Linked DNA regions of Homo sapiens: region 2 is linked to region 1. Evidence: fine-mapped expression QTL. Tissue or cell type: stomach. Region 1 holds a variant in brackets; the other region holds the start of a gene. All regions are shown on one strand. Distances are from middle to middle.

Region 1 (8,108 bases):
CTCTATTGTGTATGGATATCTATGTATAGCTAGGTAAGAGGTCTGCGAAAATAAAAATCTGTCTTATATATCTTTATAATACATGACCTAATCAGTGCTCCATGACATAATTATTACTTAGGAATTTTCACTGAGGATCTTGATTTGCATGCTGATGCTCCTGTGCAACTTTCGAATGCCCAGCTTTCTCAATACTGGTAGAAACAAGCACTGAGAACTAGGAAGACATCTGAAGTGGACTTAAAGGGCTTTCTTTTGAATAACTCAAAACTATTCTCTAAAGCCAAGGTAGGTAGATGCTAATGCTGATCTCCTCCGAGTTTAATGAGTATTCAGAAATCAAGGATTTAGGGAAAATTAAATAAAGTTTGCTCAATGTGGTTTTCCTGCATGCCCACATCTGCCACATGCCTGTTCTAGCCTCTCTATTCTTCCATGGCAGCGTGGCTTTCCCTGGACTTGCTCTTCCTCAAACCTCATCCCTAACCCCATATTCAGAGGGAGCCTAGAGAACTGGGCGGGTGTAGACATGAAAGGCCCAGTAGTGTTTGTTTGTTTGTTTGTTTGTTTGTTTGTTTTGAGATGGAGTCTCCCTCTGTCACCCAGGCTGGAGTGCAGTGGTGCGATCTTGGCTCACTGCAACCTCCGCCTCCTGGGTTCAAGTGATTCTCCTGCCTCAGCCTCCTGGGTAGCTGGGATTGCAGGCATGAGGCACCACACCCGGCTCCAGTAGTGTAGTTTAGTGCTCAAGTCTGGCTGTCTGCAGTTCAGATTTCACCTTGCCCCTATGAGCTGTATGTCCTTAAGCAAGTTAACTCTTTAAGTCTGCAGTTTCTTCTTCTGTAAAATGAGGATAATGACAGAACCTACCTCATAGAGTTATACGGAGAATGAAATGATAGTCCACATAAAATGTTTAGGCTATTGCAAGCATATACGATTGAAAATAGTCAATATATGGCATACAGCTTACAAACAATATGCTGAGATTTAAAAAACAAAACAAAACAAAACAAACTCTTGTTCTCCAATCACTGTGCCTTTAAAACAGTACAAGAATTCTCTATACTCTGTCTTGTTTCTCACACCCATGCTCTTGCATCCTCTCTAATTAGGCCATGGCCCCCTCCATTCCACTACAGCTGCTTTTTTCAAAGTCACCAATGATCTCCATGTTGCTCAGTTTTAAGACTTAATTCTTAGGTCAACTCTCCTGACCTATCAGGCAGCATTTGACACGCCGATTTCTCCCTTTGTAAGACATTTTCCACGTGCAGCCTCCAGAACACCCCACCCTCCTGGTTTTACTCCTACCTCACTGGCTACTTTCTTGTCCTCTCGTCTTCCTGCTTCTGGCTTAGTCTTTGGACTTTGTCTTTATCCATACCCATGCCTCTCGCTGATCTCACCCAGCTTCATGGCTTCCAACCCCATCTCTCCTCTGACAACTCTGCAATTATCTCCAGCTCACCAGCACTTTCTCCCCTGAGCTCCAGACTTGAAGGCAAGCTGCTATTCAATTTCTCCACTCAGGTATCTAATGGGCATCTCAAAGATGTCTAAACCTAAACTCCTATATTTCCTCCCTGAGTCCTGTTCCTCCTATATTCTTCCACATCTCAGGAACCCCATCCTAACCTCAGACCCAAAACCTGAGATACCCTTGACTCTTTTTTCATATCCCATACACACATAGTCTGTCAGCAATTCATATTGGCCCTTCCAGCAAAACATCTCCAGAATCTGATCACTTCTAACAACCACTAGGACCACCCTACTTCTAAACCACCAACATCCCTCACCTGGAATAGTGCAGTGGCCTCCCAACCAGTTTCCCTATTTCCACTTGCCCTCAATATAGAAACCAGAATGACCTTTAAAAATATAAGCCAGATTGAATCACTCTGGCTCAGAATCTTCCAGTGGGTTTTCACTCCAGGTAAAAGCCAGAGGCATAGCACTGGCTTACCACATGCTTGTTGACCCAGCTCCCAGTAGCTTTTCTGACTTCCTTTCTTACTGATCCCCCCGGCTTACTCCACCAAGGCCACCCCAGGCCTTGCCTTGGGACCTTTGTGTTTGCTCTTCCGCCCAGAAGGCCCTTCGCCAGATGGCGTCACCACCACTAGGCCTTGGCTCACATGTCATGTCATGAGACTGGCCCTGATCACCTCTTCAATCTGCACCCCCTTTTCCAACCCCAGCACTCCCTAATCCCTTCCCGTACTTTGTGTTTTGATGTAGCACTTCTCACCACCTGTCATACTTTTCATTTTGCTTATTTTATTTTTATAGTCTATTATATGTGTTTCCCACCAGAATGTAAACTCCGCGAAGGCAGGAGTTTCTGTCTTCTGCCCACTCCTGTATCCATAGTACCGGGAATGGTGCTTCATACTTTAAAAATTGAGTGAGCGTTTGCCTTTCTTACTGTTGTTGAGAGGGTTCTCTGGACTGGGGTCTACAGCTGGCCTGGACATTCTGCCTTGTGTCCTAGCTTCCTGAGGATGGAGCTGTCTCAGTCCCAGGTTTGCGGCCTGCCTTCACCACCTCTGACATGGCTGTGTCTGTCCGTTTTCCTCAGATGCATACTCTCATTCCTCAAGCGAGAATGGAGGCAAGTCCGAGTCCGTGGCCAACCTGCAGGCCCAGCCCTCCCTGAACTCCATCCACAGTTCCCCGGGTCCCAAGCGCTCCACCAACACTCTTAAGAAGTGGCTGACGAGTCCTGTGCGTCGGCTTAACAGCGGGAAGGCAGATGGAAACATCAAAAAGCAGAAGAAAGTTCGCGATGGTCGGAAGAGCTTTGACCTGGGATCTCCCAAGCCTGGGGATGAAACAACCCCTCAGGGAGACAGCGCTGATGAGGTACTTACAGGGGGCCCTGGAGTTGTCCATCAGGAGGGCCTTCTGACATGTCTCCTTCCTCAGGTTTTGTCAACTAGGCCATCTCAAATCTCCATTAGTGTGTTACCTTGAGCCTAAGTGATTTGGATTCTTTTTATTCTTAAGACATTGGCCAGTTTGATTTGTGGCTGATTCAGAAGCTGACTAGCCCCTAAGACTTCCAGCAGACAGAAACCATTTGCCAGATTTGGAGATAGGACCTGGGCCTGAGGGGAGTCATTTGGTCATTAGTTCCCTACCTCTACTAAGGACTACATTAAAACCAGCTAGACCTGTTTAGATTTAGAATAAAAGAATGAAGATTGTTTCATTTTGAAAACAGGACTGTGCTGGGAGATTGTAGCTGTTTTCAAGTCTCTTGAGCAGTGCCACACATCAAAAGGAATAGATCATCCAGAGTTACTCCAGATAACTATGATGAACAGATGAAGATTACAATAGGCAGGGTTTCCGCTCAAAGAAAAAGTTTAATCTAGGAGTCAGTCAGTGATTAAATGGGCCTTCATGAAAACTAATGAACGCCCATACTGGAAGGTTTGAGAGAC[T/G]GTAGCCAAAGTTAGGCTGGATGAAGCTGAGATTCTGTAACCAAAAGACAGTGGATATGTTTTGGTTGGGGAAATGAGATACCTGTTTTATTTGGCACACAATCCTGCTCTAATCACTGATGTGGCTAAGAAATTCTTTGTGATGTGTAACTGGACCCCCTCTTGTTGTGATTTTATGCTACCTGCCATTTCTCCCTCTGGAAATGGCAGCTAAGCCTGGCGGCATTTGGGCTATGGTTTCATAGCCCTACAAAAATGTAAAAGTTAGGCTCTCTCTGACTACTTCCAGCTTTTTCTTTTCTTGCTAATCGATAAGATAGATAGTTTCTGGTTTTGCTTCTTTTTGGGGGTGTGTGTGTGTGTGTGTGTGTTCCCCACTGGTGCTCACTCTCATTTGAAATAAGCAGGTGTATCCATGTATCAAAAGAGGAAATTGCGACTGAACAGTTAAGAGTGAGTTGAGAGAGGAACTCTCCTCCTATGTATTATTTTTGTTAATGTCAAGTCCAGAACCACTGGCATGTTTGTGACACAGTAACTAATGCTGCTCTTTTGTTCTAGAAGAGCAAGAAAGGTTGGGGTGAAGATGAGCCGGATGAAGAGTCACACACACCCCTCCCACCACCTATGAAGATTTTTGACAACGACCCTACACAGGATGAAATGGTAGAACTTCTTTACTTGCTCACTTAAAAGAGCAACGTGCCGTGCGTGATTTTGTTTTTTGTGTGTGATGGGGGTAGTCATACTCTTTCTCCCATGTTATCTCGTCGTCCACATGAATCCATGTTGATACCAATTGTGTCTCTATTTGGTAGGTGTCCCTTCCCCAACCCTGGAGGTCCAACTTCATTCTAGGCAGTGGAGGGGGTGTGTGCAGAATTCTCAAAGTGGGAATCTGCCTGGTGTCTTGTCCTGTTGATAAAGGGTAATGGCTCTGTCTTTGGAAGCAGCACATCCTAAAAGGAGCAATTCCAGGTAGTTCCAGTCCACAACCATTTTGTCGTACCTGACTGTACAACCTGCATGTTAGTTGTTTTCCCTATAGTCAACTCTAAACTCTAACTAATGGTAGCTACCAGTCAAGCCCAGTGTTGGTCAAATTTTGCAATGACGGTATGAGGAATGAAGATGCTGCTAAGGGGAAGTTATTGTCAAAGGTGGGCAAACTTAATATGCGAAATTGCCTGACTTTGCTTTGCAAGATTCCCCGGCCCGCTGGCATGCATAGGCTCACTGGTATTTGAAATATCGATGCCCCCTGTGTCTCCAGTCACCCGGTGATCATCCCAGTTGTTCTGGAGCAGAAGCGTAGGTTAGACGTGCTTCCAGGTACTGACCCGAGGCTTGGGGCAGCTTTATGTTCTCCCTCACTTGTCACTCAGTCTCCTTGCAGCTCTGCTTTCACATCACCTTTTTTTTTCTGCCTTAAGTGTTGCTGATTCTCTTAGACTCTGGACGTGGAAGCGGCAGGTTTGGGTTTTGACTGTATGGCACTTTCCATTTGCTTTTTCAAGTGCTGTTTTGTTGCAGTGGTGGTAGTGGATGTGGCAGCTTGTCTACCTGTCCCTCCAGGCTCTCCTGTGCTCTCTAGTGCTCTGCCCTGTAGTGGGACAGCCTCCTGCGGGTGTGTCCTTTCTGGTGACATCTCAGTTCTTATTTTAATTCTCTCTGCTTTGCATTTGAATTGTTAACCCACAGACATTAACTGAAGTCTTCCTCTGTGCTAGGCCGGAAGGACAAAGTCTAGGGACTCTGAGATGTGGCAGCTGCCCCCATGATGTGACTCACCTAGTCGTGGCCCCTCCTAGGTGATGTTGGTGGCCCTGTCTTCAGGGCCAGCTCTTTGACTCTGGATTATTGGGAAGAGACATAGTAGGAAGGCTGGTGTTATACCATCCTGGGTTCCTGAGACAGAAGTGCTGGTGCTTCACCTTGAGATGGAAATGAGACCTGCCTACTTGTAATGTATTTTATAAACAGCGATCATGGCCTAAGGAGTAGGGTGCCCATGTCTCACACAGCCCTCTGTGCAAGGGCCCCACTTGCATAAGGTCACCACCTTCTCTCTCTAATTCCCTCAAACACAGCTTGTTTACAGAAATGGATGTTACATTGTTTCTGGATAATTTTTAACCCAGAATTCTGACTTACCTTTATTTGTGTAGCCTTTTCCTTATGCAGAAATGGGGCAGATGGCAACAGTCTCCTTTCAGATACATGAACTCTCCTTATTCCTGCTTGTTTGATTTCTGTATGTTTTTTATAAATGTTTGGGAGTGGGATGAACTTCAGAGCATCTAGCAAATGGAGTTGGATGTATTAAAACAATTTTTACAACACTGTCAAAGGAATTTTTAAAAGTTCACCGTTGTAATATTGTGCAATTGTCTTCTCCTTGTTTCCTTCTAATCTTTTTCTTATGTGTGTACGTTTTACTTTTACAATTATAATATGCATATGTTGTGTCCAATGTTTTATTTACTACCATTTCCTAAAATTGCATGAATTTTTTTCTTCCTAGCTGTAATTTTAATAGCTGGAGAAAATTTTGCTTATTTGCTGTTCCATAATGTGTTTGATCAGCCTGTTGGGGACATCCTAACAGGGTGTTTCCATTGTTTGCTACTATGGCTAATACTACTACATACAGATCACTGTGTATATACAGCATTTGTTCTTTTGACTTCTGTCCTTGGAATAAATTCCCAGGAGTAGGATTACTAGATTAAAAAGAGGATAGCTTGATTTTCCACATGGACGTAAGCTTTTTCCTGCAGTCCCCAAGAGAGGAAAAAGAATATTGTTATATCTTCCTTAATTATAATTATTTTCCTCCCATCTCAGAAGCAAAGACTTAATAAAGTAACTTAGATTAGATGAGAAGCTTCATTTTTGAAACTTTCTCTCTAACCCAAGGGGCAAACTTGAAGGAGCCTATGTCCTGGCCTTGGGAACACCACTGCCCCCTGCTCTGATAAGCTGGAAGTAAAAGCACACACAAACGGTGCAGGGTTAACTATTTCTCCCCCAGTTTCTTCTCAGGTAGAAGAAGGAAGAAAAAGCCAAACAAAAAACCACCATCCTTCAGTGAGCAGGAAGCCCCAAACCATTGACCACACAAACAACCACATGGACAACTCCTCACTGCTGGTGCAGGGGAAAAGGGACACAGGGAGGTCCTGGAGTCGTCTCTCTTTACTATGAACAGGGTAGTTCCTAGCTGCTTCAGGACTCCTGCTAAAGCCTTTTATTACTTCCTAGTGTTCCAGTTCAGGGGCCTTACCAGAGCCAGCTATGCTTTGTGGAGGGGTAAGGGTGTATGTGTGTCAGGGGCAGAGCGGGAGAGGAAGACAGAGGGAGAGAATATAGGAAGGGAGTATCTAGCTTGCTGGTCTCTAAGGGTCCTGCCCCTAGCATTTTTGCTGGACACATAATAAAGATCTATATCTAAGGCTGTAGTAAAGCAAGGACTGTTTCCCTTTTTTGGACACACTCAAGGCTGGGTTTGTTGAATCCTTCACACCCCAAAACAGCAACGGGCAGCTGTGTAGTGGCCAAAGTCTCGTTTGCCCACAGAGCAGTAGCCCCCGCCCTCCAAGCTGTTGCTGTCAGTAGGTACAACACTAGTCTGTAGGCCTCCCAGGAAGTCAGTGATTTCTCCTCTCCCCTCCTTCATAGGCTTGCCTAAGGATAGCCTAGTACCATCCATTTGCTGCTGGCTAGAATTCCTAATAAGGGGTTGGGCAGGCCTGTATGTATTACACCCACACTCTTCTCCCTCTGTCACCTCTTCCGTCTAAACACAGAACTTTGCTTCCCTTCCCTGGCTTGAGCTTTGGACTTTCTGTTTTATTTCCTGATCACTGTTCCTTATTCTTTGCTAATCTGCTTTTCCTCTGCTGCCCGATGTCTTGCAGTCCTCCTCTTTGCTAGCAGCCCGGCAGGCTTCCACTGAAGTACCTACTGCTGCAGACCTTGTCAATGCAATAGAAAAGTTGGTCAAAAACAAGCTGGTAAGTGGGGGTCCTGGAGGCAGTTCTGTGTGTGTCTCACCTTCACACTGCTCCAGGCTTGCATCTGTCTGCCGTTTTCTCCTTTGCACCTGTCCTCATTCTTCCTATGTGATTGCAGCTAATGATGGTTTCTAAAAAGCTGTACCCCAGAGTCCTTTTTGACTTTGTTTGGGAATGGGTATAGGGAATTAATACATCATTTGGGGGCTGCAGTGTTGATGAAAGTTGAAAACTATTCAAGACAAACTCACCTCATTGCAAGCCTGATCCAGCGGCCCACAGGCAAGTGGCATTCAGTCAGTGATTGATATGTATTTGGTTAGCCCAGAAGCTAGTACACCGCGATGCTGAGACCCAGAACACACTGATTGGATATTTGACAGCACTAGGAAATTTTATGGGGACTTGGGTAGCCTTCCAGCGTGCAAAGTCTTTCAAAAGTAGACTGCTGATTATAAAGGGGAATGGGCAAAAGTGTGTGGATACCTCACCACAATAAATTAAGAGAGTCAGTGCCTAGCCCTACAATGGGGGGAAAAACTGAACATAAGCCACTGGCAGCCTGTCTAGCCTGTGACTGTCTCATGGACCCATCAGCCCGTTGGAGGGATAGGTGATGAGTCTGAGCAGGTTTGGGGTT
Region 2 (8,108 bases), 600 kb before region 1:
TCAAATTATTTTCCTGCATCTACTTAGATGATCACATGGTATCGCTTTTTTAAATTTAAATTTTATTTTATTTTTTGAGACATGATCTGACTTTCATGCCACCATGTCCGGCTACTTTTTGTATTTTTTGTAGAGATGGGTTATGCCATGTCGCCCAGGCTGGTTTCAGTCTCCTGGGATCAAGGGATTTGCCCACCTTGGTCTCCCAAAGTGCTAGGATTACGGGCGTAAGCCACCATACTCGGACTTGTATTGCTTTTTAAATATGGTATATTGGTTTCCTAGGGTTGCTGTAACGAAGTAGTGCAAACTGGGTAGCTTAAAATAATAGACATTTATTCTGTCACAGTTCTGAAGAGAAGAAGTCTGAAATCAAGTGTTAGAATGGCCATGCTCCCTCTGAGACTCTGGGGAGAATCTTTCTTTACCTCTTTCTAGCTTCTGGTGGTGGCTGTCAATTCTTGGTATTCTTTGCTGCTGCGTCACTCCAATCTCTGCCTCTGCCATTACATGGCATTTTTCCCTATGTGTCTCTGTCTTCTCTGTCTTCATATGGAATTTTTTTTTCTTCTTATCGGGACACCAGTCATATTGGATTAGGGTCCATCCTAGTGACCACATTCCAAATTTGATTATATCTGCAAACACCTTATTTCCAAATAAGGCCACTTTCACAGCTACCAGGGGTTAGGACTTTAACATACCTTTTTTGAGAATACAATTCAACCCATATCATGTGGTAAGTTACATTGAATAGTTTTCCAAATGTGAAACCAACCTTGTATATGTGGGATAAACCCACTTGGTTATGATGTATTATCCTTTTTATATATTGTAGATTTTATTTGCTAAAATTTTATTAAAAATTTTATTCCTAATAAATATTCCTAAGGAAGTAGTCTACATTTTTTTTCTTATATGGCCTTTGTTTAGTTTTGGCATCAGAGTAATGCTGGCCTCATAGAAGTAGTTGGGAAATATTTCCTCCTTTTCACTTTTCTGGAAGAGTTTTTGTGGAATTGATATTATTTCTTCCTTAAATGTTTCATAAATTTACCAAAAAACCCATGTGAATCTTGAGTTGTTTTGTGTGTGGGTGTGTGTGGGGAAAGCTTTTAAGCTACAAATTTAATTTCTATAGTAGATAAATAGCTATTTAAGTTAGCAATTTCTCCTTGAGTGAACTTTAGTAGTTTGTGTCCATCTTATGAAAGTTGTCAAATTTGTTGGCATAAAGTTGTTCATAATATTCCCTTATTATTATTTTTACATTTATAGAATTTGTAGTGATGTTACCTCTGTCATTCCTGCTAGCAGTAATTTGAGATTTTTCTCTTATTTTCTGATCAGTCTGGGTGGAGGTTTTTTTATTTTATTGATCTTAAAGAACCCACTTTAGTTTCATTGATTTTTTTCTTTTGTTTTCCTGCTATTTTATTGCCTTCTGCTCTGATCTTTTTTATTTCTGTTCTTCCACTTTGATTTCGTTTGCTCTTACAGTAGAATAGGAGCTTATTGATGGGAGATCTTTATTTTCAAAATAGGTATTTAGCACTATAAATGTCTTTCTGCTTCAGCTGCATCCCACAGATTTAGACTGCCTTAGCTGCATCCCACAGATTTTTATGTAATGTGTTTTCATTTTTATTCACTTTGAGATTCTTTCTAATATCCCCCTTTTAATTCTTTTTTTGGTGGGGGTGGCAGGGGACAAAGTCTCACTGTGTCACCCAGGCTAAAGTGCAGTGGCACAATCTTGGCTCACTGCAACCTCTGCTTCCTGGGTTCAAGTGATTCTCATGCCTCAGCCACCAGAGTAGCTGGGATTGCAGGCAAACGCTACCATGTCCGGCTAATTTTTGTATTTTTAGTAGAGATGGGTTTTGCCCTGTTGGTCAGTCTGGTCTTGAACTCCTGGCCTCAGGTGATCCCCTGGCCTCAGCCTCACAAAGTGTTAGAATTATAGGCATGAGCCATGGTGCCCAGCCCATCCTTTGAATTCTTAGTAGCTCATGTGTTATTTAGAAGTGTGTTATTTACTTTCCAAATATTTGGGAGGTTTTTCTAGATTCTTTTTGTTATTGATTTCTAGTTTAATTCTATTGTGGTCAGAGAACATACTCTGATTTTTTTTTAAAAACCAACTTAGGTATAATTTATGTACCTCTTTGCATGATTTTAATCCTTTTAAATTTATTGAGATTTGTTTTATGGCTTAGTGTATGGTTTATCTTGACAAATGCTACCTGTGCATTTGAAAAAATGTGTATCTGCTGTTATGGAGTGGAATATTCTATAAATGTCAGTTAGGTTAGGTTGGTTGATAACATTGTTCAAGTCTTCCATATCTTTACTGATGATCTGTCTCCTTATTCTATTAATTACTGCATTTTACAGATATTAAATTATCTGACTATAATTATAAATTTTTATATTTCTCCTTGCAATCCTATCAGTTTTGCTTCATGTACTTTGAAGCTATCTTATTAGGTGCAAACACTCTTAGGATTGTTACGTCTGCTTGATGAATTGAAATGTTCCTCTTTATCCCTGGTAATATTCTTTGCTTTGAAGTCTTCTTTGATATTAATATAGCCATGAACACTTAACATTTTAATAGAAGTTGCCAAATTTCCTCTCAAAAAAAGTTTGTGTCATTACATAAGGTGTTCCCCCTTTCTTGTCTATATCTTGAGATTTTGATATGACCCTTCCTCTAAACATGTAATGTTTCTTCTGAATTGTGATGAGCTAATGCCTTGCCAGGCCACTGGTTCTTTAGCTGCACAATGGTGGCAATTAATTAATAGCAGCTCTGCCATCACATATGTGTGTGCGGGGGTAGGGGAGCAGACCAGGGGTTAGGCAAAGGATTAAGGGGAAGGAAGATTTTGAAAAGACAAATGAGAAGTATTTTCATTGTCAGAAAAGGCATAGGCAAAGGGGCATCTTAAGCCAGTTCAAGATACTAGGGCCAGATGAATTAGATCTCAGGGCAGTGAACTTGTGATGTCAGAGTCACTACAGAGGTCTGATAGATGTACTCAAGGTTGGAGACAGGTCTGATAGGTGTATCCAAGGTTGGAAACAGGTACTTTTTTTTAATGGGTGAAAAAAAATTAGACTGTTTGTGTCAGTGAAGAACGTGATGCGTACAGGGAGCCAGAAAGTGTTCACTAAAAACTAATTTAATTCATTTTATTTGCTACAAGTTTACACAGTTGGTGGATCTGCATAGGCCCCAGTTGCCTTGGCCCCCAGAGAGAGGTGGAACCAAACAGGTTACTAGAGACAAACAGATCCAGGAGATTCTGTCTGATGGGTTGCAGTCATTAACTTCAGACCAGTACCTGGTTTTCCTATTAGGCGTGTTTTAACACATTAGGTCAGGCCACCACTTCTCCATCTGTCTGGATGAGGCAACAGCGAACAGCGCTCAGCAGACCTTATTAAGTACTCAGGTCTTAAAGACCCTCTGTTTGGTGGGCTCTGTAGTCACTAGAACCATAAACACACTACTGGCTAATTATTGTTTAATTATTGCTTAAAAACTGATGGGCACAATACAATCACCGCATTAATTACCCCATACAGCATCTGTTTTCTTTTTTGCAGCCATCCCCATTCCTCCCCAGCCCCTCTCCCCACTTTAATTGAAATTCAGCTTGCTGTAACACCTCCTTCCTCCTGGCCAACTGGATCTCTCCATTCACATGAGGGAGAACAAAACCGAGAAGGCCCCAGGGATTAGAGAGTTTTGACAGCTGTCCAAGAGGAGCGCGGAGATACGGGCCAAGTACGGAGGCAGGACAGAGACAAACGAGGGACAAGAGAGTGACGGAGGGAGGGAGAGATAGGCAGGGAGACATCACAGGAGCATTAAACTGGACAAAGAGTCACAGAGACAGGCGGAGATGTTTAAAGGGGCGCTGAAAAGGGGAAAAGGACGAGAAAAGATAAAAAGGAGAGAAACTGTGGCGAGCTGGTGAGGAAAATGTGAGAGGCTCAGGAGGGCAGGGAGACAGAAGAGAGCTCGTCAGGAAGGAGGGGAAGAAAGGCCGGCCTCTAGGGACAGGTCAGTCCAGCTTGGAGACCGATCTGAAGATCCAGAGAAGGCGGGCGGGCAGCCTGGTGGTCCCCTCACACACCTGGGAGTGGAGTGGACGGAGGAGGTGGCCGCGGGGCCGGGAGGAGCACCGGCGGCGCGAGCGGAGAAGCTGAGCGCGCAGCGCCCGGGCCGCAGAGCCCCCTGGACAAGCCTGGCGTGTGCCCTGCAGCCCCGGGCTCGCCCGGCGGCCCCGCCCCCTCCCTGGCCCGGGCTTTTCCTGCGGAGCTCAGGAAGCCGGCCTAGCACAGCCTCGAACAATAGCTCGGGACTCGGGCTCCGCTCCCCGGGAGGCCGGCGCGGGGCCGCTGGGACTGGGGGCGTAGGCGCCGCCGGGGGCCCGCAGCGAGCCCTCGGCCCCGGCCGGAGCTTCAATTCAGCTCGGCGCTCCCGGGGTCATTGTTGGCCGGGACTGAGGGAGCGGGAGCCGGGGGAGGAGCTGGGGAGGCGGCTGCTGCGGCGGCGGCGGCGGCGGGAGCCAGAGGGGGAGCTAGAGAGCGAGCGAGCGAAGGAGGGAGGTAGCGAGTGAGCGAGTGAGCGAGGGAGGGAGGAGGTAGGGAGACAGGGAGGGTGGGAGGGAGGAGGAAAAATAAAGAGGAGAGAGCGGAGCAGGGCTGAACAATAGAGACAGGCAGACGGGCGAGCAGGAGAGCCAGCTGCCGCTGCTGGGGGACAGCGGGCGCCCAGGCAGCCCGCACCCCGGCCCCGGGCCCCGGCCCCAGCCAGACAGCAGGCGGCCAGCGCCCTGGGGAAGGGGTACCATGGGGGAGCTGGCGGCAGGCACCCCCAGCCCGCCGCGCGCCTCCGCCTGAGGGAGGCTCAGCGTCCTCTGCCCCAGCCCCGCCGCCCAACGCCCGCCCTCGAAGCTCCGCGGCCGCCAGCTCTGCGGCCGCAGCAGCTGCGCCCCGCGCCCTCCGCCCACCGGGCGCCGAGCAGCCCTCGGCCCCAGGCTTCTTCGGCTCCCGGCTGCCCGCGGACGCCCTCCCACAGTCATGAACCCCCCTGAGGGAGCAGCGGAGGAAGGAGGAGCAGCAGACTCGGACGTGGACGCCTTTTTCCGGACAGGTAAGCCGGGCAGGGCGCGGGGGGCCAGGGCTGAAGGCTACTGCCTCGGACGCGGCGTCTCGGACAAGTTTGGGGAAGGAGGGCTGTTGCTGCCGCGTGCGTGTTGGGGGGCAGTGCCCCCTCGGCGTCGGGGCTGGAGTTGCCGAGATTCTGGTTGTTATGGCAGTGCTGGCTGCGTCTGGGGAGGGCGTGGGGGCTGGGAACTCCGCGCCCCTCCGCCTTCACCCCAGTTGCGGGAGTCTGTGTTGGGGAGGTGGGAGGCGGTCCCCTCGGACCGCCTTCTCCCAGAGCGCGGGGATGGGCGGTGTTGGCTCACTTTGCAGCGCGCCGCTCCGGCTACCGGCGTCCCGGCCCCTCCCTTGGCTCCCCCTCCCCTGTGCCTGTCAGCGGGGCTCCCGGCGGCCGCCCTGGGTCGGCACCCCTCCTCGCCGTCGGGGGCCCGGGGCCCTGATGTGCACAGAGGGGCGGCGGGGACCCGGAGCCGCGCCGGCTGCAGACTGACAGGAGTGGGGCGGAAGACATCGGTCTCGCCTGGTGCGTGTGGGGAGCTGGTCCCTCTGACTTGAGAGGCAGACCCAGCTGGGAGGGCGGTGGGCGCCTCGGACCTCCCCCTTGTCCTCCTCTTCAGTTCTGGGAACGGAGGAGCTATTCATAAGAATTACTCATTCCTGGAAGTGTGAGTTAGCGTCCCTCTCATACACACCCACTAAGTCTCTGCTTGCTGTGAGGTGTAGAGCCCTGAGATGTCTTTCTAGCTCTTTGCGCCCCTGCCATCGTCCAAGTCCCGGGTCCATTGCTCCTCCTGCTCCCTGGCTACACAGTCCCTCCCTAGAACCGGCACTGACCACCCTTATCTTCCACCACCTGTGGCCCTGTTTCTCTGATGGCCAGGGATTCCCCGTCTCCCTGTACCTGTGGCTTCCACCAGCTTCTGTGTGTAGCTCCCCATCTCCCCACATGTCTGAAACAGTTTTGTCTGGAATCTTTGTCCCAAGGAGTCCAGTAAGTTACCGGGGCCCCATGCATCTGCTCTCCCTTCTGGAAAGTTGGATTAGAGGACATGAACTGGTGGGGGTCAGGGGTCAGGTTAGCTCTGGAGGGTCTCTGCACATCCATCTGTTTCCTAACCCTGTTACCTTGCCCTGGAGGTCATCTCTAGGGAAGGGGGTGGGGTGCTTTGCGGGGGAGACTTGTGGCTTTGGAAGTCAAGACTTGATTGGCTCATATGTTCATTCTCTAGTTGATGTGCAGAGGAAAAAACTGGAGGACAGGAGCTGGTGCCAGGGTCTGGGGAAATCAGAGGGAGCCCTGTCATTCTATTCTGCTTCCCAGGTCTAAGCCTTCTTTCCTTTTCTTTCTTCCTCCTTCCTTCCCTCCTTCCTCTTCCGAGACATGGATTCTATTTTCTTTCTTCTCTCTCTCTCTCTCATACACACACAGCCCAGCACCCAAAAGCATGGATTCTAAAGAGGTGGAATCTAGGGAAAAGGTGGTTCTGGGGGCTAAGTGATATTCAGAAATACTCATTATGAGGCAGAGGAGGGGAGATATGGGAATTCATAACTGGGACTAGAAACAAATTGACCAGTCAATCAAAAACCCAGCTGACCCCCCTTGCCTCCCAACTGGGGCAAAAGTCTGCATTTTCTTAGCTCTGAGGGAAAAATCTTGAAGTGTGAGCCTTCCCACCTTCCCTTTCTGGACTCCACTTTTACCTTTTGGTGCCCACTCCTCTTTCCCCTTTCCTATCATCCAAACACTAGGTCCTGTTCATTTTCTGTTCCAGGCACCCGTAGCAGAGCTCAGTTCCTGGAGGCTTGCTTATTTCTGATAATAAATTCACACAGTGTTAATGGCCAATAATAGTCCAATGTGTTACTTTTCCCAGGGCCTTTCAAAACACAAGGTGTGGCACACATTATCTAACCCTGGCTCAAATCACAGAATAAATAGCAGACTGGGGTCAGTCTCCTGTGGGATTCCTATGTTGGGGATATTCTCCCTCCTCCTTGGGCAGCCCAGTGGCTGAGCTAAGTCTGATGTGCACTTAGTATCAGAGAAAGGTTAAGTCATTGGTGCATGAGGCTGGAAATGACTGATGACCTGTAACATGTTGCAAGAGGGGGTAGGTCAAGGACTACATCCACCCTGTGTGGCCCTCTATGCTTGGCTCACTGACTGTCACCACACTTCTGGTCTCTAGCCTAGGCTCTTGCTGGGGATTCTTCTTCTTCTTTTTATTTTTATTTTTTGTTGTTAATTTTTATTTTAGGTTCAGGGGTACATGTATGGGTTATATAGATAAACTGTGTGTCACAGGGGTTTCGTATACAGATTATTTCATCACCTTGGTAATAAGCATAGTACCTGATAGGTATTTTTTCTGATTTTCTCTGTCCTCCCACCTTCCACCCTCAAGTAGGCTCCGGTGTTTGTTATTCCTCTCTTTGTGTCCATGTGTTTTCATTGTTTAACTCTCACTTATAAGTGAGAACATGAAGTATTTGGTTTTTTGTTCCTGCGTTAGTTTGCTTAAGATAACAGCCTCCACCTCCATCCATGTTGCTGCAAAGGGCATGATCTTATTCTTTTTTATGGCTGCATAGTATTCCATGATGTACATGTACCACATTTTCTTTATCTAGTCTGCCATTGATGGGCATTTAGGTTGATTCCATGTCTTTGCTATTGTGAACAGTGCTGCAATGAACATATGCATATGCGTTGGTGGAGATTCTTAAGCTTAGAAAAGCCATGTTTCTAAACCTTCTCCCTTCTGATTTCCCATCTCTGTGGAATATAGCACTATACCTGATAGGCTGGATAGATTATAAATGTATTCTATTGAACAACTGAGAAAGCTTCAAACAAATTTTCAAAGTCCCTAGCACCAGGGTTACCCCTTTCTTTCTGATGGAAAATTTTGTATGCACAAGGA

What was found. PIP is the estimated chance that this variant, and not a neighbour inherited with it, causes the effect.
Region 2: it holds the start of KALRN, and the variant in region 1 is fine-mapped to the expression of KALRN in stomach (GTEx, PIP above 0.99). The same link has a PIP of 0.9 or more in lymphoblastoid cells.

Annotation. Positions count from the first base shown.
Region 1 is chr3:124,629,836-124,637,943 of GRCh38, forward strand. It overlaps KALRN (kalirin RhoGEF kinase), which reads left to right. Exons shown (of 60, transcript NM_001388419.1): 35 at 2,585-2,868; 36 at 4,017-4,118; 37 at 7,373-7,468. Among named protein-coding and RNA genes, the nearest start is that of UMPS, 97 kb to the right of the region's middle. RefSeq lists an enhancer at 4,985-5,486. The variant T/G (reference allele first, on the strand shown) is at 3,453.
Region 2 is chr3:124,028,644-124,036,751 of GRCh38, forward strand. It overlaps KALRN (kalirin RhoGEF kinase), which reads left to right and starts at 4,726. Exons shown (of 60, transcript NM_001388419.1): 1 at 4,726-5,170. The coding sequence starts at 5,098. RefSeq lists a silencer at 4,242-4,701.